2 separate regions of the Homo sapiens genome follow, and region 1 is linked to region 2. The links come from fine-mapping of genetic effects on gene expression. A gene starts in region 2. The other region holds a variant in brackets. All regions are shown on one strand. Distances are from middle to middle. Region 1 overlaps AXIN1 (axin 1). Region 2 holds the start of MRPL28 (mitochondrial ribosomal protein L28).

Region 1 (13,835 bases), 72 kb before region 2:
AGGAGTTGCAGGGGGGAAGTGGACGGGTGTGGGGTGTCTGCTTCCCAAGGGCTGAGCCCCGTCATGGAGGTGACCCCAACTGGGGCCCTCCCTCAGCACCACATCTGCAGTCATGGGGTGTTTGCACAGTGGCTTGTGGACGGTGGGAACCACCCGCCAGGCTCTGCCAGGCTCTTGGGGTCAGGCCCCCTCTGCTCACCGCCCAGTGCTCACTCGGGAGCCTCCAAGGCTGGCTGCACGCAGGGCCCTGCAGGGCTGAGTGGCCCAGGGCGAATGAACCTTGGTAGGAGGGGGCTTGGCTTTTCAGTCAGGCAAAAGCACATGAGTCCAGAGCCTGGAGACAAGGTCGGCCTAGGGGAGCCTAACACAAGGTTCAGACCATCGTCGTCTAGGGGTCTGGCCTCTGTTTTCCCACCCCGAAGATGAGGGCCCTGGACGGGGGTCCCTTTGGACCCTCTCAGTCCTGTGGGGCCGAAAGCCTGATGCCACCCTCAGCCTAGGGCTTGGAGAAGTGGCTTTAGTTGCAGATGAGGGACATGAGCTGAAATGGCCGGAAGCCCTTTTTCTTCTTTTTTTTTTTTTGGGCGGGGGTAGAGACAGAGTCTCGCTCTGTCACCCAGGCTGGAGAGCAGTGGCGTGATCTCAGCTCACTGCAACCTCTGCCTCCCGAGTTCAAGCAATTCTGCCTCAGCCTCCCAAGTAGCACACCTGGCTAATTTCTTTAGTATTTTTAGTAGAGACGGGGTTTCACCATGTTGCCCAGGCTGGTCTCGAACTGCTGAGCTGAGGCAATCCGCCCACCTCAGCCTCCCAAAGTGCCAGGATTAGGACGTGAGCCACTGTGCCCGGCTGGAAACCCTCTTTTTCATACCGTTGGGCACCCACATACTCGTGCGGGGAGGGGGCACCCCAGCCCTCACACTCACCTGTAGCTGCCCTTTTTGGTCAGCAGCTCCTTGAACTGGCCCAGGGTGACAGCGCGGCCCCTCACCAGGGTGCGGTAGGGGATGGGTTCCCCGCAGAAGTAGTACGCCACAACGATGCTGTCACACGGCTGGGCACTCCCGCCGCCCACCTTCCTCTGCGATCTTGTCCTGGGGAAAGAGATGCAGCGGTGGTACCTGGTTTTGGACTGAGGTCCCACAGGGTCCCTCCTGCTGGCCTCAGGCTGCCAGTGTAAGGCGGGGCAGGCCTGCAGGGGTGAGCAGCACCCCATTCAAACACCTGGGGCCCGCAGCCCCCGCACAGCATCTCAATCTGGGATCTAGTCCGCTAGCAGTGGAGTCGGCTCCGCTCACTGGGAGCACGAAGGTCTCCCTGCTGCCTCACAGCCCCACCCTCGACTGGCCAGGGCCTGGCTGCCAGGTGCACTGCAGCTCCCACCTCTAGGATGGCAGGGCAGGCTGCAGGGCTCCTATCTCAGGAAGACCTACGGCCCCCAAACCTTAAAAACATCTGAAGGGCAGGGATTGGACAAACAGAACTGTGCACGATTTCTGGATAAGCCTGACCCCGCAGCGAAGTTTGTCGGAGGACTGGGGCGGGGGTGGCCAGCAGGCCCTTCAGAGGGGGCAGGGCTGGCACCGTCTCCTGCCCAGGCTGAGCCGGGCCCTCCTCTGACAGGTGCTGTGCTTCCACAGCCGTGCCGGGATGACGGGCGGGGCCTGGTTGCTCTCGCACCCCCCACTCGGCTACCCCGCCGCCACCTGTCCTTCAAGTGACTCCAGAAGCTGCCCCTGGCCCACTGGGGTTCAGCCCTTGGGCCTCCTCCTGGCTGGGTGCACCAGAGGCTTCCAGAGCCAACACCAGGGCAGGAAGGCCTCATGGCCACCTGAGCCATGTGACCATCCTCTTTGCACACCAGGCCCCCAGCCACGTGCGCTCTTAGACGTCCTCCCAGTGCCACATCCTCGGAGCCTCCTGGAGCCAGGCCCATCAGAGAAGAGCCAACACGTGGGGGCTGCCCCAGGGACAGGTGAAGGCTGCCCCAAGACCGCCTACACGATGAGGGCCACAACAAACCTGCATCTGGGGCAAGCCTGGCAAGGCCTGGGGGACCCTTGTTCTCAAGGCCCCTTTTGGGGTGTGCCCCCTCCTCCTGCCACCTTGAGCACATAAAGGCGCCGTCGACACGGCCCATGTGGGATCACATGGTCTGAGCCCTTTCTCACGGGTTCAGAGCAGTCAGCATTGTAGGTGGGAGCAGAGCCCCGACTCACTGACTGCACGGGCTGGACAGACACGCATGGCTGAGACCCACACTGCAAGCAGACGCACCCCGGGCACCTCAGCACCTGCAGCCCCGAGCCTGGTCAAGTCAGGCCTGGCAGGGACCGGCCCGTTCCAAGCCGGGTGGAGGCGCAGGCAGGTCTCTGCCCCACAGGAAGCCTGGCCGTGACACCTGTGTGGATGCAGGGGCTGGCTGTGCCCAGGCCTCCAGCCGGGCCTTTTGGTCACTTGTCATCATGCTGGACAGTCAGCGTCTCCTTTGATGGAGACAGGAGAAGGCTCTCGGGCAGCTTCGAGTCTGATGCCACGGGACCCTCTCCTGCCACAGCTGCTTCTGAGCGTGGTACCCGAGCTCAAGCCCCGGGACGGCGGCTCTACGATGGGACCTGGCTTGGGACGCCAGGGCTGGGGTGGGCAGGACCGGGAGGACCCTCAGGACGCACGTACTCTGTCTCGGAGAGCTCCATGTCCGACACGGCTGGTACCACGTGCAGCACCGGCGCGCACGCTGGCCTGACGCAGGCGCGTCCCCGCCGCATAACCTCCTGCACATACCTAGGGAACAACCCGCGTCAAAGGTGGCTGTGCCGGCGGCCACCAGCCCTGGGGAGGGAGCCTCGACCAATGCTGCTGCGCAGGGACGGACGGAGCGTGAAGGGCCCGAACAACCCACCCTGCGCAGGCTCCAGTTTGCAGGGTAGACAAGACACCGAGTCCCCTCCTAGGCCTGCCTTGGTGGTACCCGATACTGCAGCGCGCCCCACATTCATGATCCCGGCACCAACCCCCTGAGTTCCCTGGACCGCACTTTGGGGAGCTTCCGATCAGGGGTGCTGGGATCCCACCACCTCATCCCCTCTGGTGGGATGACATCTCGTCCCGAGAGTCTGTCCTTCAGTCTCTTGGCATGAATTCCCCACCGATAGCGTGGACACTGGCTCTGGGGCGTGCGTGGCAACTCGGTCTGCACCTCAGGGAGGCTGAGGGCCCCCCGGCGCCACAACTGAGGCCATCCTGGGGCAGCACAGCAGCTCCTCTCACGTGGACACCTCCACCGGGGTACACTGGGCGACCTTGATGGTGGTTTCTACTCTGACATCCTGACAGGGCCCAGCACCCAACCTGCCTCTGGGCCTTCACTCCGTCTCCACAGCTTCTCGCAAAAACCCACATCCCCTGGACGGACAAACCCAGCAACTCTGGGTTTCCCCATGGGGGGATGCTGGAGCCCAGCAGCCAAACGGGCGGGAGGGTCGTGTCTCAGAACGGCGGGAGTGGTCCCACGGCTCAGCGGGCATCCCCTGCCATCATGTGGGGCCACGGGTACCAGGGGAAAGCGCAGACGCAACCTGAGAGACCCCTGCTCAGCCCAGCAAGGATGGCTCAGGAAGCCCCGGCAGGAGAGCCCACACACGCCCAGGGCCTCGGACCTGCTGCACACGATGCCCACCACGGCTCATCTGCCAGCCCAGTCACACGCCCCGGCTCCGAGCACCACACTCCAGGCTCCTGCATGGCAGGGGGCTCCAGCTCCTTGTTGGCCGAACACGATCACAGGGTCACAGATGTTTGGTCATAAAGTGGTCACCCTTTGGGTTTGAGGTAACTGTGACCCTTTCTGGCCCCAGAGCTGTCATTAGGCTCACAGCCTGGCAGAAGCTCAGGAACCTTTAATGACTTGAGACCACACAGGCTTTCAGCTGGGAAGGGTCTGAACCCTGATGCTGGTTCGGCAGAATAAGGCCCCTAGCCACAGCCTCCCTGGAGTGGCACAGCCCCAAAGCTGGAGGCCCGGGAGGCGGGCCTGGACCCCAGGCCCCAGGTGACCCAAGGTGGACAGGAGGAGCTGGTGACCTCTGAAGGCAACCATGGCCTCTGTGACCACAGCCCCAGGGCCTGGGTGAGCTATAGGCTCCCAGGACCCTCAAAGAGACACTGATCTGTGGGGAATTCCAATGACCCAGGATGGCCGAGAAAACTGGCCTTATGAGCAAGCTGAAAATGGAGAAGCCAGGTTCTGGCCTGGAGCGAAAATGCTGCCCACACAAAGGGGAGACCTCCCTGCAGCCCAGACAGAAGCCT[C/T]CCTGCCCTAGGGAGAGAACAGGGTCTGGCTACGGAGCCCAGAAGACCAAGGAGGGCGCAGTGAGGAGGGCTGTGGGCTGGACGTCCCGGATGAGAGAAGGGCACAGTGAGGAGGGCTGTGGGCTGGACATCCAGGATGACAAGAGGACACAGCGAGGAGGGCTGTGGGCTGGACGTCCAGGACGACACTTCTACATCTGCACGGCTTTCAGAACCACGTAGCTTTCCGACCGTGCAGAGCCACTCAGGGCTCCTGGGACGCAACTGTCAAGAGGCAGCCGCCATGCCTCCAGGACCTCTGCCCTAAAGCCCAGGCTGCCCAGCAGCGAGCAGCCTCTGGCTGGGGACCGGCGTTCCCCACACACTGGGGCCCTGCAGCCTCCCTGCAGACTGGGCTCAGGTTGAGGAGGGACCCCGCCTCCAGAGCAATGAGCGCGGCGGCCTCGGGTGTGTGAAAGCTCCAGCCCCAGCCTCCGTCCACCGCAGGGTGGCCTGCCACGTGGCCCCTCAGTGGTTCTCAGTGGATGGAAGGGCCCAGTATGGCTGGGGGACACCCAGAGGGCCGTTTTTCCCCTGAAGACCTCAGGCCTCGGGGAGCTTCAGCCCCAGGAGTGGTGCTGTGGTAACCCCCAAGACCCACCCCACCCCACGACGCGGCCGTACCTCTGCTTGGAGGGTGCTCGGCTGGCTCTCTTTTCTTCCTCCTCCAGACGTCGGCGCGCCTCCTCCAGCTGGGTTAGGGGGTTGGGAGCTGGGTGGGGTGGCATGGTGGGGTCTTGGATGAAGAGGTGGGAGGGCTGCACGGAGGTCCGGAGCTGAGGGCCGGCCCAGGGGTGCTCAAGGGACAAGGGTCTGGAGTTCTCATGGGGCTGTGGCTTCCTCGTCCCCGAAGACCTTGGGGAACAAGAGAACAAGTTGTGACTGTGGCCGACACCCTGGCCAGGTGGCCTGGTGGGGCTACACTCATCTCACAAGGGCAGCCTCCTTGAGGGATAGGATGGGATGGGGCACTGGGGCCTGGCCACCAAGCCACATGGACGTCCTCCACAGACCACACAATAAAAACATCCCGGCCAGGCATGGTGGCTCACACCTGTAATCCCAGCATTTCGGGAGGCCGAGGCGGGCAGATCACCAGAGGTCGGGAGTTCGAGATCAACCTAACATGGTGAAACCTCATCGCTACTAAATATACAAAATTAGCTGGGCGCCTGTCATCCCTGCTACTCTGGAGGCTGGGGCCCGAGAATGGCTGGAACTGGGGAAGTGGAGGTTACAGTGAGCCGGGATCACGCCACCGCACTCCAGCCTGGGTGACAGAGTGAGGCTCAGTCTCAGGAATAAAAAAGACAACAAAAAACCAACCCTCATTTGCCTGTAATCCCAATACTCTGGGAGGCCAAGGTGGGTGGATCGCCTGAGGTCAGGAGTTCAAGAACAGCCTGGCCAACATGGCAAAACCATGACTCTACTCAAAAAATACAAAAAATTACCCAAGTGTGGTGGTGGATACCAGTAATTCTAGTTACTCGGGAGGCTGAGGCAGGAGAATCGCTTGAACCTGGGAGGCAGAGGTTGCGGTGAGCTGAGATTGCACCACTGCACTCCAGCCTAGGCAAGAGTGAGACTCCATCTCAAAAAAAAAAAAAAAAAAAAAAAATGGCCAGGCGCGGTAATCCCAGCACGCTGGGAGGCCGAGGCGGGTGGATCATCTGAGGTCAGGAGTTCAAGACCAGCCTGGCCAACATGGTGAAACCCTGTTTCTACAAAAATACAAAAAGTTAACTGGGCATAATAGTGGGTGCCTGTAATCCCAGCTACTCAGGTGGGTTAGACAGGAGAACCACTTGAACCTGGGAGGTGGAGGTTGCAGTGCGTTGACACTGGCCTGTTGCACTCCAGCCTGAGCCACAGGAGCGAAACCCCATCTCAAAAAAAAAAAAAAAAAAAAAAAAAGGCCAGGCGCGGTGGCTCACGCCTGTAATCCCAGCACTTTGGGAGGCTGAGGAGGGCGGATCACGAGGTCAAGAGATCGAGACCGTCCTGGCTAACACGGTGAAACCCCACCTCTACTAAAAAAATACAAAAAATTAGCCGGGCGTGGTGGCGGGCGCCTGCAGTCCCAGCTGCTCTTGAGGCTGAGGCAGGAGAATGGCATGAACCCGGGAGGCGAGGCTTGCAGTGAGCTGAGATCAGGCCACTGCACTCCAGCCTGGGCAACAGAGCAAGACTCCGTCTCAAAAAAAAAAAAAAAAAATTCTTTCATGGAGACTTTTTTTTTTTCTTTTTTTGAGACAGAGTTTTGCTCTTGTTGCCCAGGCTGCAGTGCAATGGCTCGACCTCGGATCTCGGCTCACTGCAATCTCCGCCTCCCAGGTTCAAGCGACTCTCCTGCCTCAGCCACCGAGTAGCTGGGATTACTGGCACTCGCCACCACACACGGCTAATTTTTTGTATTTTTTTTAGTAGAGATGGAGTTTTTGTCATGTTGGCCAGTCTGGTCTCGAACTCCGGACCTCAAGCGATCCACCTGCCTCGGCCTCCCAAAGTGCTGGGATGAGGCTTCTTTTTTTACATTTTATTTTTAACAGCTTTACTGGGATACAAATTATATACTAATCCTAGAGGCCGGCGGATAGCTTTGAGTCCAGGAGGCTGAGACTGCAGTGAACGGTGTGATTACACCACTGCACTTCAGCCAGGGTGACAGAGGGAGACTCTGTCGCAAAAAATTAAAAAAAAAGTCTTAATGAATAAAAAGTATAAGTATGTCTCAAAGTGGAATGTATTAATACTTATCCTAAAATATGGGACATGCAATATTTAGTATATACAGCTATTTAAAAAAAGGATTCGGCCGGGCACGGTGGCTCACGCCTGTAATCCTAGCACTCCAGGAGGCCGAGGCAGGCGGATCACCAAAGGTTGGGAGTTCGAGATCAGCCTAACATGGCAACCACCCCCTGCCCCGGTCTCTACTAAAAATACAAAAATCAGCCGGGCGTGGTGGCTCACGCCTGTAATCCCAGCTACTCGGGAGGCTGAGGCAGGAGAATTGCTTGAACCCAGGAGGTGGAGGTTGCAGTTAGCCAAGATTGCACCACTGCACTCCAGCCCGGGCGACAGAGCTAGACTCCGTCTCAAAAAAAAAGACTCGAAGGCCAGGAATGGTGGCTCATGCCTGTAGTCCCAGCATTTTGGGAGGCCAAGGTGGGAGGATCACTTGAGCCCAAAAGCTTGAGACCCAGCTGGGCAACACACTGAGACCCCCTCTACAAAAAATGAGCCAGGCAAGGTGCTGTGCACCCCTGTTCCCTCGGGAGCCCCAGAAAAACGATGAGCCCGTCCCCACCTCAGTCAGCACCGATGGGGACCCCAAGGCCTTGCGGGACAGGCTTCCAACACAGGCAGGAGGGCCACGCCCCAGGCGCTCAGCTGCCTCACAAGTTCTCATCAAGTAATGTGGAGGGAGATGCGTCCTGGCCAGGGCCTGGGTGAGGGTGGGGGGCAGATCAGGACCTAAGTCTGAGGAAGCTGGGGCCATCCACCCACCAGGGCCAACACTTCCCAGCTGACCTGCCTCTGACCACGACAGGAAGGTGGGGGGTACCACCTCTGTGGGGCCCCTGGCCCTCCTGCTGGGTTCCGGGCACGAGTGCAGGCCCAGGGGGCGAGCAGGAGCAACACCAAGACCGGCCCGGCGGGCAGCGGCAGGGGCTGGACCTGTGGCGCCGGGGCCTTGCTCCACACCACACACGAGGCCTCTGCCCTTCTGGGAGGAGAGAAGTGCTCACGCTACACAAGAGCCTTCCCCAGCCCTCAGCAGGACGGCCAGGTGTGAGCACAGAAGGCTCCTCCGTGGGCACCTCGGGAGTGATGGTCAGTGGGGGCCTTCCCAGGTGACTTAGGTCATTCTCATGTGGGGGTCAGACTGGAAATGACCTCCCGAGAGCATCTGTGCTGCCTGCGGGGTGACAGCCACGTCAGCTTCCCTCCTGCTCGGGGCTTCAGGGACAGCCTCTCTCTGGGGACATGAGGTTTTCCTCCTGGAGACGTGGGGCCCAGGGAGCCTGCTGGAGGGTGCCCGGGAGGGTGCCACAGTGACAGGGGAAGTGTGAGGCGTCACAGGCGACACTCGCCACACACACTGAAGCTGCACACACTGAGACTGTGCGGAGGCCAGGGGTGGCAAAGCAGGCCCCACGAGGCTGGCTGCGTGCGGGGTGCTCACCCGTGGCCGGTCCTGCGGTGCCTGCTGATCTCCTTTTCCCCCTCAATGATCCACTGCATGATTTTCTGGTTCTTCTCCGCATCCTCCGAGGCACCTGGCACCTCGGTGCTGGCGCTCTTCCCCGACTCAGCCTTCTTGGCATTTCTTTTGCACGCCACGCCCACCTTCCCACTGCAAGGGCAAGAGCTGCGAGTCGCCCTGGCCTCCGGTGGCCGAGGCTGTGCCCCTTCCTCGTCTGCGAGGCCCCCTCCTGGCATCTGTAAGGCTCCCGTGGTGCAGCCGCCGCCCGCTGTCCCCTGCCCGCTTGTCCCCCACCCGCTGTCCCCCGCCAGCTTGTCCCCCACCCGCTGTCCCCTGCCCGCTGTCCTGGTGCTGTCTGGGGGTTGGTTTCCTCTCTAAACACACAGGCAGTCACTGCTCACCCCCTGAAGACTGAGGGCCAGAGCGGGAGCCAGGGTCGGGCTGTGTCCCCTAACCTTCATCTCCCACCTGAGGTCACGGCGTGGACTCCCCTGACCCAGGGCCCAGTCCACTCCCTCCAGCAGAGGGGCCTCCTGCCTGTTGCTGGCGGTCCTGGGTTTCCTGAGTTTTATGAGGAGGTTCTGGCCTTCTGCAGGGACACAGCCTCACCCCAAGCCCCCTCCTCACTGACAGGCGCACGCTCACCTGTGGGCGAGGCCATCACTGGCGTTGGGGGCAGCGCCAACACTCTCTGAGTAGCCTCGGGACCTTGCCCCATGGCTGTGTGGTTCCAGGCCCCAGGCGAAGCTGCTCTGGGCCCTGCGGGTGGCCTCGGCCTCCACCTGCTCCTTGGGCCGGGCTGTGCTGTGGTGGACGTGGTGGTGGACGTGTCGGTGGTGGTGCAGGCCGGCCGCGTCCAGCTTCGCCCCTGACTTGGGTACGTGCTTCCCGTGCCCCGAGGCGGCACCCCCCAGTGCCACTGGCATCTTGGCCACGTGCCCACTGTCCGGGGAGCGATGGCCAGGCCCAGGCGACTGGCGGCCAGGTGTCCTCAGCACACGCTGTACGTGCTCGTCCAGGATGCTCTCAGGGTTCTCCTCGTGTGCATCCCGGAGCCCGGCACAGCCCATGTCCACACAGCGGGGCGGGAAGTGGTGCCAAGCGGGGGCGGGAGGCAGCTTGTGACACGGCCCTGGGGGCCCTGACGATGGATCGCCGTCCTCACCTTCCTCCTCCTGTGTGGGGACAAGCAGCACCATCACCTCTCAGCACCAGCTGCACACTTGGGGAAAACAAAAAGCATCAGGCCTGACCCAGCAGCCCCAGCAGATGCCGTCCCAGCCCAGGGTGGCCGGGGGCCCCTCGCCACCGGTCCTGTCCCTGAGGATGGAGAGGCAGGACGGGGCATAGACAGAAGGAGCGGAGACAGCAAGGCCTCAAGGAATGCAGCGTATGTATCGGCTGTGGGCAGAGCTCTGCACAGATTTAGTTTAGTTTTATTCTTTTTTTGAGACAAGTTCTTGCTCTGTTGCCCAGGCTGGAGAACAGTGGTGTGATCTCAGCTCACTGCAGCCTCCGCCTCCTAGGCTCAAGCGATCCTCCCACCTCAGCCTCCAGAATAGCGGAGACCACAGCCGTGTGCCACCACGCCCAGCTAATTTTTTTGTACTTTGGGGACAGATGCGATTCTCACCATATTGGCCAGGCTGGTCTCGAATGCCTGAGCTCAAGCAATCTGCCTGCCTTGGCCTGTATATATATATATTTTTTGAGACAGAGTCTTGCTCTGTTACCCAGGCTGGAGTGCAATGGTGCCATCTCGGCTCCCTGCAACCTCTGCCTCCTGGGTTCAAGTGATTCTCCTCCTTCAGCCTCCCAAGTAGCTGAGACTACAGGTGTGCGCCACCACACCCAGCTAATTTTTGTATTTTTAGTAGAGACAGGATTTCACTATGTTGGCCAGGCTGGTCTCGAACTCCTGACCTCATGATCCACCCACCTCGGCCTCCCAAAGTGTTGGGATGACAGGCATGAGCCGCCGCGCCCGGCCTCCCATTATATTTTAAGGAGAACCTTGTACAGAACGGCTCTTGGGTTATGTACATGTTGTGATGCTGCCTGACGAGCTTCCACATGAAGCCGGTGGAGTTTCACTTGATTCTCCAAGTTAACAGGTGCTGAAGCTTATCTGTCAGAGCAAACATTTGATCACTTTAATTCCAAGTTGCATCTCATACTTATTTTCTCATCTTATTGGACTGACAAACTAAAACAGTATTGAGTAAATCTGGTGTCAATACAAAAGAAAGAGAGGGAACTAAGTTACCATGTATCTATGTATGTATTTATTTATTTAGAGTCAGAGTCGCTCTGTCAGCCAGGCTGGAGTGCAGTGGCACGATCTTGGCTCACTGCAACCTCCACCTCCCGGGCTCAAGCAATCCTCCTGCCTCAGCCTACCGAGTAGCTGGGATTATAGGAGTGTGCCACCATGCCTGCCTAATTTTTTTGTATTTTTAGTAGAGACGGGGTTTCACCATGTTGGCCAGGCTGGTCTCAAACTCCTAACCTCAGGTAATCCACCACCCTCGGCCTCCCAAAGTGCTGGGATTACAGGAGTGAGCCACCACAACCGGCCTATTTATTTTCATTTTTTTGAGACAGAGTCTCGCTCTGTCACCCAGGCTGGAGTGCAGTGGCACGATCTCGGCTCACTGCAACCTCCGTCTCCCGGGTTCACACCATTCTCCTGCCTCAGCCTGCCCAGTAGCTGGGACTACAGGTGCCCGCCACCACGCCCGGCTAATTTTTTATATTTTTAGTAGAGATGGAGTTTCACCGTGTTAGCCAGGATGGTCTCGATCTCCCGACCTCGTGATCTGCCCACCTCGGCCTCCCAAAGTGCTGGGATTACAAGTGTGAGCCACCGTGCCCGGCCTATTTTTATTTATTTAATTTTTTTTTGAGACGGAGTTTCACTCTTGTGTCCCAGGCTGTAGTGCAATCTCCGCCTCCCGGGTTCAAGTAATTCTCCTGCCTCAGCCTCCCGGGTAGCTGGGATTACAGGCACCCACCACCATGCCCAGCTAAATTTTTTGTATTTTTAGTAGAGACTGGGTTTCACCCTGTTTGCCAGGCTGGTCTCGAACTCCTGACCTCAGGTGATCCACCCACCTTGGCCTCCCAAAGTGCTAGGATTACAGGTGTGAGCCACCACACCTAATCGCAGTGGTGCCATCACAGCTCAAGGCAGCCTCAACCTCCAGGGGTCAAGCGATCCTCCTGCTTCAGCCTGCCAAGTAGCTGGGACTACAGGTGCATGCCACCATGTCCCATTAATTTTTTCTTTTTCTTTTTTTTTTGTAGAGATGGGGAATCTCACTATGTTGTCCAACCTGCTCTTAAATTCCTGGCCTCAAGTGATCCTTCTGTCTTGGCCTCTCAAAGTGTTGGGATTACAGATGTGAGCCACTGTGCCCCACCTACCTCTATATTTTAATATAAACAAACCTCCCAACGTTTAGCACCCAACTCTCACACCTGCAAAAGTATCCAAATGCAACTGGAACAGGCGTGCCCCAGAGCTGGTGTGGGCTTGGCTGCGGGCACCTGCACTGGGGCTGAGGGTGAAATATGGCACTAAAGAGGACAGACGGATGCTGGAGCAGAGCCGGGGGACAGGTGGGTGGTGGGCATCCCCTGGCGGATGCAGCTATGCTGCCTCCCTTTCCTTGGTTTTGTAGGACTAAAGGGCCCGGGCACTCTGGGGAGAAATCTTAACCGAGGGTCTTCCTAGGGACTAAAAGTGTTTGGAGTTTTGATGCCGTTCACTGCCTTGGCCGAGCTCCACATCGGCAGGAATTCTATCATGGGGCTGTGAAATGTTACAGATTAACTTAACCACTCGGCTAATGGTTTTTGTTTTCTTCTTTGTGCTTTAATTTCCCAAATTTCACAATGAAAATAGGTTATTTAAAAAATCTGGAGTTCACGCCTGTAATCCCAGCACTTTGGGAGGCCGAGGCGGGTGGATCACAAGGTCGGGAGATCGAGACCATCCTGGCTAACATGGTGAAACCCCGTCTCTACTAAAAATACAAAAAAATTAGCCGGGCGTGATGGTGGGCGCCTGTAGTCCCAGCTACTGGGGAGGCTGAGGCAGGAGAATGGCGTGAACCCGGGAGGCAGAGCTTGCAGTGAGCTGAGATCGTGCCACTGCACTCCAGCCTGGGCGACAGAGCGAGACTCTGCCTCAAAAAACAAAACAAAACAAAGCAAAAAAAAAAAAAAAACTGGAGTTATTCCTTTTAGGGAAGGACCACCACTCCTGGGCCCTGGTGGTGCTGGATCCACACACCTGTGGGCACTGCCATGCTCCCTGTTGCTGGGACAGAGCCAGGACTCCATGGGGTGGGGAAGCCTTGAGAGTCACAGGTGAGAGCCACACACTCAGCACCTGTGGCTACGCCTGCCTTTAACATGTCTTGCTTAAGGCCAGGCACGGTGGCTCGTGCCTGAAATCCCAGCACTTCGGGAAGCTGAGGTAGGAGGATCACTTGAGGCCAGGAGTTCAAGACCAGTGTGGGTAATATAGCAAGATTCCATCTCTACAAAAATATTTTTTTTAAAAAATGTCTCACTCAAAATGGGAACCTGCCCTACTAGAAGCACACCCTGCGAACGGGTGAAGGCGCAAAGATCAGAAAATTACAGACGGCCAACATGACAGCAAAGCGTTCCACAGAAAATTACAGCGGCCGGCGACCGACACAACAACAAAACAGCAAAGGCTTCTGCAGAAAATGACAGCGGCCAACACGGCAGCAAAACAGCAAAGGCTTCCTTTCTTACGTTTCTGTTGTGAGCATGTTTGTTTAAGGGCTGCTAACCTTCACCTGCCACCCAAATGATGATGCTGACGTCACAGCCCGTGGGCCCGGATGTGGCCTGCGGACATGTCCATATTCTTGGTAACTCTGTTCCCAATGTTTGGTTTTCAGACAACAGCCCAGTAAGGCTCCCAGGCAGGCCCCAATGCCGCTGGCCTCAGGTGCGCACAGCCAGCCTCCTCAGGGCCACCCCAGGAAGCAAGCGAGCCGCTCCAGTGACCACCAGGTCTGCAAGGCGAGGCCTCACTCTCACCGCCACAGGGACCACGCGGCACTGATGCTGCTCCTGCCAGCCCTGCGGCCCCGGCTAGGTTCCCGATATTGGAGGACAAATTCCCTGAGTCCTTTCCTTGGGGGACTGTGGAGAAGGTGAACTTGGCACCTGCAGAGCCCTGGAGCTGGCACCACCCACACCTGTGCCCTACCCAGATGAGGGTCACCCT
Region 2 (14,614 bases):
CCTCGAGCTGGCAAGGGGACATTAAATGGGAGGTGAGGAAGTGCGGCCCCCAGCGGGCAGCTGCCTTTGCCCCGGCCCACCTGCGCCCCCGCCCACCTGTGCCCTCCGCCGCCTCCCTCTGCTTGGCTGTCCCAAGATGTCTCTCTCCACTGCCTAGGAACCCTGAGGCCGCGGCCAAGTTCTGAGCGTGTGACTGTGTGTGCTGGGCCCCAGGCCCCTTTGTCGCCGCGGCGTCTGTCGTGGCAAACAAAAGTGAACCGGATTAGCCACAGTGGATTAAAAGATTTACGTCTCAGAGTTTACCTAATAACCTAACAATCGTGTCAACGGGAGCTTTGAACCCCCAGGGCGCGCCTGCCAGGCCAACTGAGAGCTCAAGGCCTCTGTGGGCAGCAGGACGTGGTCGGGGGGAGGAGACGCAGCCACGGCTGTCCTCACACCCAGCTCGGCCCCTGCGGGCTCCTCTGGGCAGAACCTGGGGAAGGCACGGCCTCTAGCAGGAGGTGGAGGCCTTTGAAAGGGTGCAGGTGTTGGGACCAGGTACCCGGCCCAGGCCCCCAGCCGCGTCCACACACGTCGCACACGGCAGCAAGGACGCAAGCAGTGTGGAGGTGGCCGCGTCGGCGACGTATGGGCCCCGTGGTGCTGCGGTGCACGACCTCTGTGCTGTCACCCCACAGTGTCCGCTCCTGCACGTACACGCGTGCACGCGCACACACGTGCACACGCACACACACACAAGCACGCCCCGCTTTGATCTCTAAAGGAGAGTCCATTGACAAGCTCTTAATCGCAGCTGCCCTTGCAGGGCCTGTCCCTGAAGTCCCGAGTAATGGGATTTGGCGCTTCTGATCCATCGGGCTGGCCGCTTCCCGTGTCATAGGTGGACATTTTTTTTCTTTATATCGCTTCTGTTTCTTTTTTTTTTTTCTCCTCGAAAAAATGCTGCTTAAACGGCACCGACTTGACATGGCTTGTCTCCTAACCTTGGAGTGGCGGCCGGGACGCCGGCCTGGATCAGTCGGGGGTCTTTGATGCCGCCTCCATGTGAAACCTGACGTGGAAGACCCACCGGGGCGGTTTTGGGGTCCGAGGTCCGTCAGGATTCATCCTGCCTCACCCTGCTCCCTTTGTCTCTTCCCCTGACCCTTCCTCGGGACACCCGGAGAGGGTCTGAGGGTGAGGGTGCGGGCGCTGCGTGTGGGCTTGCACTCGAGGGTGGGGTGGGCCGAGGGCAGGGCCGCAGCCGCGAGAACAATGGGCAGAGGAGGCGCGTCCACCTGTCCGCCCGGCCGCCTGCCCGGCTTACCTCACCTGCCTGGCTCCGTGTGCCTGCTCACGCCCCACCGTCCCGCTGTCCGCCATGATGGGCTTGGCCGTCCGTCCGAGCACTTTCAGCCACTCTGGGAAGCAGGTCCCTGCTCTTGGCCACTGTGTGGCTGGGAGGCAGAAGCGTGACTCTGGGCTGCAGCTCGGGCTCCTGCCGCCGATTGGCTGAGGCAGGGACCAGATGACGGGCCTCAGAACCCTATGGTAGCCATGGCAACCAGCCCCTTTAGACACCGCCACCCCCGAGCCACTCCTGACTGCTGAGGGAGCAGGCGGCACTGCCCGTGGGCCCATGCCAGGGTCCCCTTGGAGGAACGAGGTGGGCATGGCTGCATGGTAGCTGTCCCCACAACAGCTGTTAAGCGTTTCCGTGTGTTTCATTCATGTCCAGTGTGTGGGGTCCTTGCCCCTCTCCTGGCCTGTCCGGGGCCACTCTGTGCCCTGCCTTACCCCCAGCAGAGGCAGAAGCACTGGCCTTGCAGCCCCTGCTGAGAGGAGGACTTCAGGTCAGGCTTGCCTCAGGGGCTGAAGGCCAGGCCCAGTCTGGTGGGAAAATAAAGGGTGGGAGCAGTGGAAGCGGGAGCAGGGAGAACTTCCCAGCCCCACTGGGCAGAGCCAAGCTCTCGCCCACCTCAGACGGCAAAGGCTGCCAGCTTTCTCTCCGCCCACAGTCCACTCCGCCACCCTCTCGTTAGCTGCGGCCTGTGGAATACGTGCACGTGCTCACACAGTCCCGTCTCACAAGCCCCCTGAGGCCCCTCCCGAGGCCTTGCTCCCTGGACCTTGGGTTCCCACTGGGCAGGACTCTGGGTCTTTGGCCACACTGAGGAGACCGTCTCGCCATCAGTCACACACCTGCGGCTGCACCCGCTCTCCCCTGGGCTGCAGTGCCCTCTTGCGTCCCAAGAACGCCTCTTCCCTCCAGGGCGCACCAGCATTGGCCCCTGGCAAAGCTTTCCCGTATGTCTGGAGACGAGGCTTCTCAACCGTCACCCGTGGACATCCTGGGCACTGCAGGGCACTGAGCATCCCCGGAACCACCCCCTGCCCCCAGCCCCGTGACAGCCAGAAACAGTGTTGGCTTGTCCACGCGCTCTGACAGCAGCACTGCCTGGCCAAGACCCCTTCGAAGGCTTCCCCTAAGCCCGGGAAGCTGAGTCCCACTTCCTGGCCCAGGCCCAGCACCCGATGAGCAGAATCTGGTGATGAACAGCTGCAGGACTGCAAGGAGCAAGCGAGAGCCTTGGGCTGCTGCAGCCCAGGGAGGCCACTACCAAGGCCATCAGAGGGACCCGGGATCCAGGGGAGCCTGGAGCATGGTCCATGGGGATCCACCTTCAAGAGAGCGACTTCGGGGCCAGTCCCAGGGAACCGGGCTTGGCATGGGCCTGGGCGCCGGGGGTCTCGGGCCGCGGCTGCTCCCCCAGGACTCTGGGCGCCGGGGGTCTCGGGCCGCGGCTGCTCCCCCAGGACTCTGGGCGCCGGGGGTCTCGGGCCGCGGCTGCTCCCCCAGGACTCTGGGCGCCGGGGGTCTCGGGCCGCGGCTGCTCCCCCAGGACTCTGGGTCCGGATCCAAGCTTCTTCGCACTGGCCTGGTTGTGAGCCGCCTGTCCCAGGATGGAACCCGGCCTTGAAGCCCTTCCCATGCCATGCTCAGAGCTACCAGCTTGTCTGGGGACAGGATGTGGGTAGGGACACCATCCCAGGACAGCAGGCAGTGGTTAGGGAGGATGGTCCAAGGCTGGAGCCCGCCTAGGGAGGGCTGCGGGGCGCTGCGGCAGAGGGAGCCAGGACCGCACGGGAGCCCAGGCTGCTGGGTGTGGCCATGTGGCCAGGGTTCCAGCTTGGGTGGCTGGTGGGTGTCAGAGGGACAGGGACTCAAGGGAGCCTGGGAGCCCCACACAATCCAGCCCGTGCCTGGGGCCAGCAGAGGGCTGGAGTTACAGACGGGCACTGGTGAGAGGGCGAGGGCGGCCAAGGACTGAAGGTGGAGGCGGAGCCCTAAGCAGGCCCGCGGGACACACAGTGGTCTCCCGGCAGCTCCCTTGGGCTCCCAGCACCCTGACGGGGGCACAGGACAGGAGCAGAGTTGCCAAGCGACCCAGAGGGCCCGCCCGCTCTCCATGCCCTTCCCTCCACTATCCTGCTGCTCTGTGCACCTGAGCAGGACTCAGGAAGCAGGCGAGACCCTTGGGGTCAGGGGTCAGACATGGACTTGTGACTGGGTGCCTCAGGCCAGCCTCACATCCACTCCACCCTACCCTTCCTGGCCTTGGCTTCCCCGTCTCTATGTGGAGTGATGGGGTCACTGACACCCCTTCCAGTCCTCCAGTTTTCTACCCCCAAGGGATCCCTGCCCATAGCCGTGAGGGTCCACCCCGGAGTCCACCCTCAGGTCCACAGCCCATTCTCTGCCCGACACCGCGGCTGACTGTTGTCATGGAAACACATGGCCTCTGCCAAGCCTGGGACACGCGTGGGGAACTCCTGGCCCCTGAGGGCTCCGAGAGGCTGGGGCTGGTGCAGGCCGGCCCAGGGCAGCTCTGCCTCCTGTGGGGTTGATCTTGCTCTGCACAGATCCCTCTCCCACTCCAGGTGCCTGAGGGTCTGCACGCCTCAGTGAGGGAGAACTGGCCGTTCTCAGAGACGGAGTCCAACACTTCAGGAAGGAGCCTGACAGGTGTGATTGGTGAGGATGGCAGAAGGAGGGTCTGGTGGCCCCAGCCCGGCCTGGCTCTGGAAGGGGTGGGGTGGGCATAGGGAGGGCAGGGAAGGGGTGGGGTGGGCGCGGGGAGGGCGGGGTGGGCGTGGGGAGGGCGGGGAGGGCGGGGAGGGGTGGCCAGCAGCCATTCCCAGGTTGGCTGCCCGGGCTCCCAGCTCAGTTCTCAGTTCCCCACACACATGTTGGAGCCGGTACAGTCCCTGGGACCCCTCCCCACAACCCAGAAGGCAGAATAGCATGCTGGATCCAGCTGCTGGGTCTGTCCCAGACCTGAGTCACGGTTTGGTCTTGAGGGATGGGTCCGGCATTTACGGAAGGCCTCTTACCTTTTTCTCAGTCAAGGACTTTTGTGGCCTCTGACCAGAAAGTTGTCAGGGCCCTGGCCACACCCAGACCCCACCTCAGTCTGGCCTGGCCTCCCCTGCGGGAGGACTAAACAGCCATGGGTTCCATCGAGGTGACTGGCAGAGGAGGTAACCTGCTGAGGCCAAATGCAGCTTCTCCCACTGGCCAGCTGGTAGCCTGGTCCCAAACCCACAACCCTGAGTCAACACAAGTCAGGACACACTGATAAGCACGTGCCACCATGGCCGACAGGGGGACCGAGGCCAGCGCCTACCAGCCCATTGCCAAGCCTGGCCCCTAACTTCTTGGGGCCCCCAGAGTCTGACCCAGGAAGCCCTACAGGCCTTGGCAGGAGCCCTGCTTACCGTGGGGCTTGGTTGGGGTGGGAAAGAGCAGGTGGTGAGTGAGGGGCAGCCACCGAGGCCTGAGTTGGGAGGTGCTGGACACACACACCATCAGGGAGTCAGGGGCAGGCCGAGGGGCTGGAGGGGGCTTGGCTTAAGTTCACAGCTGAACACGGGAACTGTGCAGGGCAGGGCGTGGCCACAACATCCCAACTCTGGCTAGAGCTGGGGCACGGAACAGCACTCATGCTGTGGGCAGCTGGGCTGAGCCTCATGGCCCCACAGAGCTGACTGAGCACTGTCTGTTTTTCATAAAGTGTTTTTTTTTTGAGACAGAGTTTTGCTCTTGTTGCCCAGGTGGAGTGCAATGGTGCAATCGTGGCTCACTGCAACCTCCACCTCCCGGGTTCAAGCAATTCGCCTGCTTCAGCCTCCCAAGTAGCTGGGATTACAGGTGTGCGCCACCACACCCGGCTAAATTTTTGTATTTAGTAGAGATGGGGGTTTCACTATGTTGTCCAGACTAGTCTTGAACTGCTAACCTCAGGTGATCTGCCTGCCTCAGCCTCCCAAAGTGCTGGGATTATAGGTGTAAGCCACAGTGCCCGGTATGATTTTTATTTATTTTTTTGAGACGGTGTCTCGCTCTGTCGCCCAGGCTAGAGTGCAGTGGTGCGATCTCCACTCACTGTAACCTCCACCTCCCGGGTTCATGCCATTCTCCTGCCTCAGCCTCCCGAGTAGCTGGGACTACAGGCACCTGCCACCATGCCCAGCTAACTTTTTTGTATTTTTAGTAGAGATGGGGTTTCACCGTGTTAGGTCTCGATTTCCTGACCTCGTGATCCGCCCGCCTCGGCCTCCCAAAATGCTGGGATTACAGGCGTGAGCCACTGCGCCCGGCCTTTTTTTTTTTCTTTTTGAGACAGAGTCTCGCTCTGTCACCCAAGCTGGAGTACAGTGGTGCAATCTCAGCTCACTGCAAGCTCTGCCTTCCAGGTTCAAGCGATTCTCCTCCCTCAGCCTCCCGTGTAGCTGAGATCACAGGCATGTGTCAACATGCCTAGCTAATTTTTTGTATTTTTAGTAGAGATGGGGTTTCACCGTGTTGGCCAGGATGGTCTCTATCTCCTGACCTCGTGATCCACCCGCCTCGGCCTCCCAAAGTGCTCGGATTACAGGTGTGAGCCACCGTGCCTGGCCTAAAATTTTTTTCAAGGTCGTTCACAGAGCAGGGGCATCACATGAAGGCACTGGTGTGGGGAGCAGCAGGACATGTCGGCAGAGGTGCCCGGTGTGGAAAGAGACCTCGGGGGCCCTCCCAGGGCTCTGAACCAGGCAGGTCCTGACCCCAGGGACCCCTTGCGGCCCCGGGAGCCACGTGCTCCCCTGCAGTCCAGCAGGGCCAACTGCAGACTCCCTCTGGACTCTGCCACAGCCCCCTTGGGAGCCAGGGGCCCCTCAATCAGCCAGCAGGCCCACGTCAGGCAGCTGCCTCCAGTTCACCCCATCCTGCCACCAGCTGGGGCTGGCTTAGGCTCAGGGGACATAAACCCCCCCTTGTCATTCTGCACATGCAGCTGGGGGAGCCCTCCCTCTGTGCTCCCTGGGAAAACCGAATGGGTCCGGAGGATCAGGATTTCCAGGTAAGGGTTGGGGGAGAGGGTCAGGTACCCCCAAAACCTCAGGGCGGGAAATGCCTTAGGGTGCACAGCCCGGCTTCCCGCTGGCCAAACCTCCACCCTGCAGGTCAGGTGGAGGTAGCAGGAGGGGACACCAAGGTCGCAGGTCCCCAAGTTCGTGTCGCCCCCACCTCCTCTACCACTCGCCACAACAGTGCTGACCAGGGAGAGGCTCCTGACTCAGGCAGCTGCACCAGCACGGCCCTCTGAGGGCCTGCCCCTCCTGGTTCCTTCCAGTACCTGCAGAGCCAGACCACAGCCTCCCTTGCCCTGCTCTGAAGAATGTTCGAGAAGGGCAGGAATGTGCAATGGAGAGGGAATGGGCATCATCCGGCTGCACCCCTGGATGCCCCCAGCTACACCAGACCCTCTACCAGAGGAAAGAAAGACACAGAATACGGCCAGGGGAGGTGGCTCACGCCTGTAATCCCAACACTTTGGCAGGTTGAGGCAGGTGGGTCACCTGAGGTCAGGAGTTCAAGCCCAGCCTGGCCAACATGGTGAAACCCCTTCTCTACTAAAATACAATTAGCCATACATGATAGCGGGGTGCCTGTAATCCCAGCTACTCAGGAGGCTGAGACAGGACAATCACTTGAACTCTGGAGGTGGAGGTTGTAGTGAGTCCAGATCGTGCCACTGCACTCCAGCCTGGGTGACTGAGCAAGACTCCGTCTCAAAAAAAGAAAAGAAAAAAAAACACAAAACACAGAATTGAACCTCGCTCTCTGCAGCTCACCGGGGGACGGGCACAGCCAGAGTCAATGCCCACGGCTCATCCGAGGTCTCAGGGGCAGCAAGGGCAGGGGTGACAGGATCAGGATCCCCAAAGAGAACACCAGTCCTCAAAGCAAAGATACACACACACAGCCTGGCCCAGACTTTACTCGCTCCCGGCCCCACGGGCACAAGGAACACTGCCGCAAACGTCGGGGCCCAGCCTGAGAGGAGCCTCTGGGCGGCCCAGGCCTCCTGGGGATCCCTGCCAAGCTGGCCCCGGGCTGGAAGGTGCATGGGCAGCACACGAAACCAGGATCCACCCACTGCCCACCGGTGGCCCTCACAGCTCCCCGGGATCTGTGTCCTCAGTGCAAAGGGCCTGGCAGGGAAAGCTGGGCCTGTTGGTCAGGCATGGAGGAGCTGTGTGGTCACTGGCCACTGGCTCTCTTCTGCACCACCGCCGGCTCTGACAGTGCCTGCTGCTGCAGCTGCTGGATCAGCTCCGCCACATAGATCTTGAACAGGGGTACAGGGTCCTGAAGGAGAGAGGGGCTCATGGTGAGGCCAGGGAAGCCCAGGGCAGCTGGAGTTCCGACGGGGATGGGATCAGCAGCTGCCGCCCAGAGGAACCGGGGCATGAGAGGCCCTGGAGGGCAGAGTCCTGTCGGTGAGATGAGGAACCCCCTCCCTTGGGGATGCCGGAGGCACACACATACCCCTGTCCCATCCCTGTGGTCATGGATAAACAGAGGGAATAGGGGCAGCCAGCTGCCATGCCATCAGGGGCTCCCTGTCCTGACAGCTACCTCAGGCTCCAGACCCTGGGATGCTGGTGGCCGAGCAAACCCTCAGTGCAGGAACCCACTCCTCCTACTGAGGGTCCTGGGACAGAACAGGGTGGGGACTTGGAGGGGAGGGAGCGGGCCATGCTCCTCTGGGTGGGCAATGCAGAGCAGCAGCTCTTCCCCAAGCCCACCCAGTGCACCAGCCCCTTGTGCAGGCTCTCTCCAAGGCAGCACACTCCCAGACCCTGAACACCAGGCTCTGGGCAGGCAGCATCGGCTGGTGCTCACACACTCACCTTCTCCTCCAAAAGTCTCTGCTTCTCAATGGCCTCCTCCAGCGTGAGGCCCACCCACTCTGCCTCCTCCTCTGGGATGGCAAATTCCTAGGCAGGCAGAGATGGAAAGGGCAGTGAGGCCCAGGGCCGGGCCACGAGTCCCCAGGTGTAGGGAGCGGGACGGAAACCCTCACCTTGTACTTGTCGTAGATGGCTGCCCGCCGCTCGGGGTCCTCGGGGTGCAGCTGGGGGTCCTGCCGGGCAAGCCGCAGCAGCATCCCTCGCTTCAGGTCCATCCCAAACTTGGAGCACAGGTCCTCCTTCGGGGTCTGGCAGAAGGCTCACATGGGGCCAGGTGCTGGTGGCAGGGCCCCACCTACCCTTCCAGCCAACCCACCTGGCTCCTCTCTAGCCGCTGGTGGTCCCAGGACAGGACAGAGAAGGCCCGGGTGGGGCCGCCTCAGCACCCCAGCCTGGGGGGTGGGATCAGCACAGAAGCAAGTCCAAGTGCAGGGAAAGGGGCGGCTGTGCTCGCTCAGGCCCCACGGGCAAGTCAGCCACCCACAGAGCGACAGCCTCTCCTGAAGGCAGGAAACCCCACTGGTGCTGGCCAGAAAGGGGCATGGCCCCACTCACGCTTTCCCAGTGACCCTCCTGTGCAGATGTCAGCGTGCCCCGGTGTGATGCTGACCTGGGGCTCCCGTGAGTCTGACTGGCCCATCCCAGACCCTGTGTGCACTGACTCGCCCCACCCCGCTTGCCTTGAGGATGTAAAAGTCGAGCCCATAAGCCTCATCGATGAGGTCCAGGGTCCGCATGGTCACAGTCACTGTGAACTTCTTGTCCAGGATCTCACTGTAGAACTCTCGCTCAAACAGCTGTGGCTTCCACACTTTCTTCAGCCTCTTGGAGAGCTGAGGGTGCAACAGAGCCTCCATGAGTACTGCTGCTTTCTCTTACATACCAAGGGGGGCCCAGGCAACTGCCCTCACCTCCCCCCCGGAGGCTCCATCACAGAACCACTGCTGTCAGACTGGGGACCTAGAGCTAACTGGGCCGGCCCCCAGCCCAGTGCCGCCCCAGCCCGACCCGGGTCCTGACTGTGTACCCAGAAGTCAGCTGCTCCCCAACAAGCTGGGCGTTCCCGCCCTGGTCACATGGTTGCTGCATGTGTTTCAGAAACATGTGCGACCCCACAGTTTACAGGTTGTCACATTCCAACCTGGAGGTGACACAAGTCTCCCCACAGGCTTCAGCAGTCCCGCCAGGAAGTCCACCACAAGCAGCCTCGAAGCTCTGCTCGCCTCCCCCACCTGCTCTGCTCGCCTCTCCCACCTGCTCTGCTCATCACACAGGCCTCCTCCCCATCCTAACTTTACCCCGACTCCCCACGGCCTCTGGTTGCTCCCCCGGCCTGAGTCACCCCACCTCACCCCTACTTTATCAGTCCTGTTTGCCAGAACTGCGGTTCTTCACTCAGCGTGCTCCTTTGCCGGAGATGTGTCGCCTCCAGGCTGTAATCCCCAGGGCCCACCCAGGTCTCTCCAGGTACCCCGGGCGTCCGGCACAGAGCCGGCACAGCCAAGCCCTGAGAGGAGCCCCTGAAGGCCGCCTGCGGACCCACCTTGTCGTTGTTGGCATATATTTGGCCCAGGATCCAGCCCTCGCCGCCCCACAACCCCCGCTGGGATTCGGGGGGAAAGTAGATGGGAATGGGCACGTCCTCCACACGCTCCCGCTGCCCGTTCTTGGGGTTGATCTTGAACTTGGCCCCATGAGGCCTATAGTGCACGGGAGTGGGCGTCCGCTCCTCCTCCAGGGAGCGCAGGTAGTGGCCGGGCAGGCGGGAACAGATGCCCTCCCGCAGCTGCAGCCGCTTCCAGAGCCACACGGGATACTTGTGTAGAGGCATCGCGAGCCTGGCGGGAGGTGGGGGCTCGCAGTCAGTCGCAGCCTGGCCAGGCCCCCGGCACTCACCCCCTACCCCGGCCCCCGACTCTCACCCGCTACCCCGGCCCCCGGCTCTCACCCGCTACCCCGGCCCCCGGCTCTCACCCGCTACCCCGGCCCCCGGCTCTCACCCGCTACCCCCTACCCCGGCCCCCGGTTCTCACTCCGGCCCCTGTCCCGCACCCACCTGCCCCTCCCCTTCTGCCCCGGCGCCCCCCCACACCCCACCTGCCCGCGCCCACCTTTCAGGGTTCAGAGCCCACCGGAACCGGAAGCCGATCTGCCGCGCCTGGCCCTCCTCCCACCGCTGACTGGCTGTAAAAGCCATCCGTCTACCCCCTCGTCCCGCCCCGCTTCCGTCTTTAGGGACCGTAAAAAACACCCCACATACAGCAGCAGCAGCTCAAGGCACCGTTAGCTACGTGCGGCCCCGGCGTTTCCGCGAAGGGCGGCACGGGCGGGGCGGTGCTTGTTCTCCCGGGCCCCACTTACCCTACCCGGGAAGGAGCACAGAAAAAATGTAAAAACTCGTTTAGTTTGAAAAATCAATGTAGAATATTAAATTCACCAAACACAGATAGATCAGATCTACATAAAAATATGTCTTAATATCTTAGAATTTTCCTTTACTCCAAAAAACCCCATATATATATGTTTCTCCTTTATAAGCTTAGAGATTGCTTTGGTGGTCAAGTGCAGGGCGGCTGGGGGAGGTAAGACCTTCAGGAAGGCCATATCCCGGACAAGACCCAGAAGGGAAGCCCCCAGAGCCAAGGGTAGGAGGGCCCCACCCGGGTCTCAGCCACTCACTTCTCCAGGGCGGATCCGAGACACTCACAGGCCTCAGGGAGGGGCCAGGTGCTGCTCCTGGTCATTGCTTCCCCCACAAGGTTTGCATGAGGAGCAGAGACAGTCCAGTCTCCTGAACACCCACAGGGCACAGAGCCCAGTGCAGGGGGCAGACACCACCGCAGCTCCTGGGACCAAGAGGAAGCTCCCAGAGGGGGGCCCAGGAACGCTGGGGTGGGTGGACAGGGCTGGGTAGGGGTTCCTTCTGGGCCAAACCCCCAGAGCAGCAGAGCACCCCAGTCCAAGGAAGCTCTTCTCAGGGACCCAAGGCTCCAGAGCCAGGAAAAAGGGAGGGGCGGGGCGGGAGCCTGCATCCCCAGTGCCCATCAGCTCTGGGGGAAACCTCCGTCTCCCGTCCCTATGGTGACCACAGCAGCAGAGGGGGATCCTCCATGCCCCAGGCAGGCTGGCATCAGGGCCACACAGGGGCCAGGAGCAGGGGTCTCGGAGTCCACAGCTCCCGGCCCCAGTGGTGGGCTCAGGGCTCCTGGGCGCCATGGGTCTCACCACAGCCTCGCCAGGGAACAGGACCATAGGGAGTCCTTCTCCCCATCTCTAGCCACCCACAGGCCAGCAGAGCACACAGCCCCACCCTCGCACAGGCACCTGTGGTCTCCAAGTAACCAAGCCCAGGCCCCAGGGGCCACTGCAGACAGCAGCTGGGATCTGCAGAGGGATCTCAGCAGCGAGCAGGCAGCTGGCGAGGAGAGGTGCGTGTGAGGGAGGGGTGGCCCTCTCCTCAGTAGGAGGAAGTAAGAGGGTATCTAGGCCAATTTATTCAGCTGGAAATCAATCTGTCCAGGGCTGGACCAGGCGCCTCCCCCTCGATACAGCTCCTGGCTGAAGAGGTCATCAGAGCAGCAGCTGTCCCCAGGCCAGTGTCACGTCACTGCGTACAGTTCCTCCCGATCGTTCTTGCAGATCTGATAGTGGCAGGGGAATTTCTGCGAGCAGGCCCAGGGCTCGGCGGGCTGGTCAGGTGGCGGCAGCAGCAAGGCTGCGCTCCCGGCCAGCAGGATGTGCCAGATGCTGTGGGTGTAGTAGTAGTTGTCGCTAGTCATCATGGAGGTGTAGATGGCGATGCCCACAGAGGCCATAGAGACGCCGGGCAGGAGGTAGAAGGCCCAGCGCTGCCACGAGGTGGGGTAGCACTGGCGCCGGTGCCCGCAGCGGTAAGCCTGGAGAAAACAGCCACGCAGGTATCAGTGCAGGTGGGGCCGCGGCTGCAGCTCCCAGGGCCCAGATACGGTGGTTACTGGGGGCCTGCCCAGGTCTGGGCAGCAGAACGACAAGGGTGGGCTGCTTCGAGGGGGCTCAAGGCCACTGGTCCTCAGGCCCAGGCCTCAGGGACACAGCCATGCTGGGCCTCTGTGGGTGCCATGGCAACCCCCAGCAGATATGGGCATTCACTGGTTGGAGCAGGACCAGGAACGTGGCTAGAGCAAGGGGCCAGGCTCTCTTCTCCGAGCACCTGGGCAGCAGTGCCAGCCAGCCCGGCTCCTTACCCACATGGAGGCCATGATCACGAAGGCAAAGAGGCAGGGCCCCAGCATGTTCCACATGCCCCTGCGGTCCAGCTGCAAGGACATGGCGATGACCAGTGTACCCAGAAGAAACAGCACCTGCGCAAGACACAGGGATGACTGCAGGGACGTCTCTGAGGGCTCAAGGCCCAGCAGGAGCACGCGTACCCCACGGCCCCACAGCACCTCTGCCTGCCCCCTCGGAGCTGCTGCCACCCTCAGACCAGCTCTGCCAGCCTCTGACTAGCTCTGCCAGCCGGCAGGGACATGCCCCTCCTTCAGCTTCTGTATTGCATCCACAGGTGAATGTGGCCAGGCAGGCATCTCTGGGGGATTAGACGATGCTCACACAAACTGGACAGACGCATATGGCCGCTCTGCACCCACACACTCACTAGCCCCCTGTACCACTGGGTTTCTAGAAGTCCCCCATCAGGGTGGCTTCAGTCTCCCACCCACTGTTCCATGGGGAGGGGCTCCCACCCCCCAGTCTCCATCAGACACCTCTGCCCACAGCCTACAGTTCTCTGCCTATCTGCAGGTTCAGGCCCCGCACTCAGCCCTGCAGGACCCTGGTGCTTCCCAGCCTCCCCTCTGCCCTGGCTGTGGGGCTCCCATGGGCACCCCCTTGGGGCAGTACCCAGCCTGCAGTTCCCAGAGCAGATGGGAGGGCAGAGCATGCAGCTCACAAGCCCAGGGCATGAGTCTCCCCTTGCCAGGGCCAGCTGCCACAGAGAGTCCCCAAAGCATCATTGGCCCCAAGGACCCAGGGAGCATGGGTGGGGGCTTCTCGAAGGCAGGGGGCCTGGCCTCCCCTGCCTACCACCTTCCTTCCTGGCATCCTCCAAACAGCTGGCACTGCCCCCTCACAACTGCCTGCGGGGTCTCAGACCCGCATCTCCGTGTGGCATCACAGAAGACATGAGGTTTCTTTTCTTTTCTTTTGTCACCCAGGCTGGAGTGCAGTGCTGTGACCTCGGCTCACTCCAACGCCTCCAATGCCTGGGATCAAGCGATCCTCCCACCTTAGTCTCCCGAGTGGCTGGGACCACAGGCATGTACCACTACGCTCGGCTAACTTTTCGATTTTTTGTACAGCCCAGGCTGCTCTTGAACCCCTGGCCTCATGGGATCCTCCTGCAAGTGTTGGGATTACAGGTGTGAGCCACCATGCTCGGCCAAGGCATTACAGGTGTGAGCCACCATGCTCGGCCTAGGGATTACAGGTGTGAGCCACCATGCTCGGCCGAGATGTGAGGTTTCCAGGGGCCGTGCCCAACGCCAGGTCCGGCCTCTCCCACGGTACTGCCTTTCGCAGGCTGCACTTGGGGGCCCTGCTCCCCCGGAGCCCACACCCCACGTCGAGGGCCACTCACGTATTTCAGGACTGTCTTGAGCCGTGCCATGCACAGGATGGTGACCCAGATGGCCGCCCCGGAGCCCAAGAAGTCGCAGTACTGCAGCGTGTCGTAGCTGAGGATGCACAGCACCGCCTCCCCGGGCTGGTCGCAGGCGTGGTAGAACTGTGGGGAGGCTCCATGAGCGCGGTCCTGCCCTCCCACCCCACATCCCTGCAGGAGGGGCCAGCCTACCGTGGAGAAGAACATGGTGTAGGCGTAGACGGAGGCCTCCACCAGGAAGAATCGCCGCACTGAGACGGCGATGGGGGCCAGGAACATGAGGTTGCTGAGCGTGAGCAGCAGTGTGGCCGCCCTCTGCTGGGCCACCGTCTGGGCTGTGCTGTTGTCCGTGCAGCTCCACCCACGCCAGCCTGCGGTCACAAAACCCCGACGCGGAGGCTGGGGGCACTGCTGAACCTCAGGGCCCACCCCTCACCCAGGACCCTGCAGAGAAGCCCCTTCCTCACCCAGGAGCAAGCAGGGTAGGCACGGCGGGCGGGGTCCAAGGTCAGGAGGCAGTACCACCCCCCGGGGATACCTGGTGCCTGTGCCAGGCAGACGGATTGTTGGTGGGGAATGGGGGAGTGGGGAGGAGGCTTTGCCCCTGCATTGCTCTGCAAGGGTCTCTCTCCAGCCCCTTGCGGCGCTCCCCCAGGGGAAAGGCACAGCACAGCACTGGAAGCCAACAGC

What was found. PIP is the estimated chance that this variant, and not a neighbour inherited with it, causes the effect.
Region 1: its variant is the best candidate, but not a certain one, in a credible set for the expression of MRPL28 in whole blood (TOPMed, PIP 0.75).

Annotation. Positions count from the first base shown.
Region 1 is chr16:288,514-302,348 of GRCh38, forward strand. AXIN1 (axin 1) reads right to left here. Exons shown (of 11, transcript NM_003502.4): 6 at 9,209-9,738; 7 at 8,543-8,713; 8 at 4,975-5,205; 9 at 2,677-2,784; 10 at 927-1,094. Among named protein-coding and RNA genes, the nearest start is that of PDIA2, 12 kb to the left of the region's middle. The variant C/T (reference allele first, on the strand shown) is at 4,312.
Region 2 is chr16:360,105-374,718 of GRCh38, forward strand. It overlaps MRPL28 (mitochondrial ribosomal protein L28), which reads right to left and starts at 10,434. Exons shown (of 6, transcript NM_006428.5): 1 at 10,395-10,434; 2 at 9,827-10,121; 3 at 8,964-9,116; 4 at 8,397-8,531; 5 at 8,224-8,310; 6 at 6,865-7,678. The coding sequence starts at 10,114. The coding sequence ends at 7,571. It overlaps PGAP6 (post-GPI attachment to proteins 6), which reads right to left. Exons shown (of 13, transcript NM_021259.3): 10 at 14,117-14,295; 11 at 13,901-14,047; 12 at 12,507-12,623; 13 at 10,684-12,179. The coding sequence ends at 11,883. RefSeq lists enhancers at 770-1,618, 1,619-2,466, 3,095-3,602, 3,603-4,109, 12,164-12,735 and 1 more.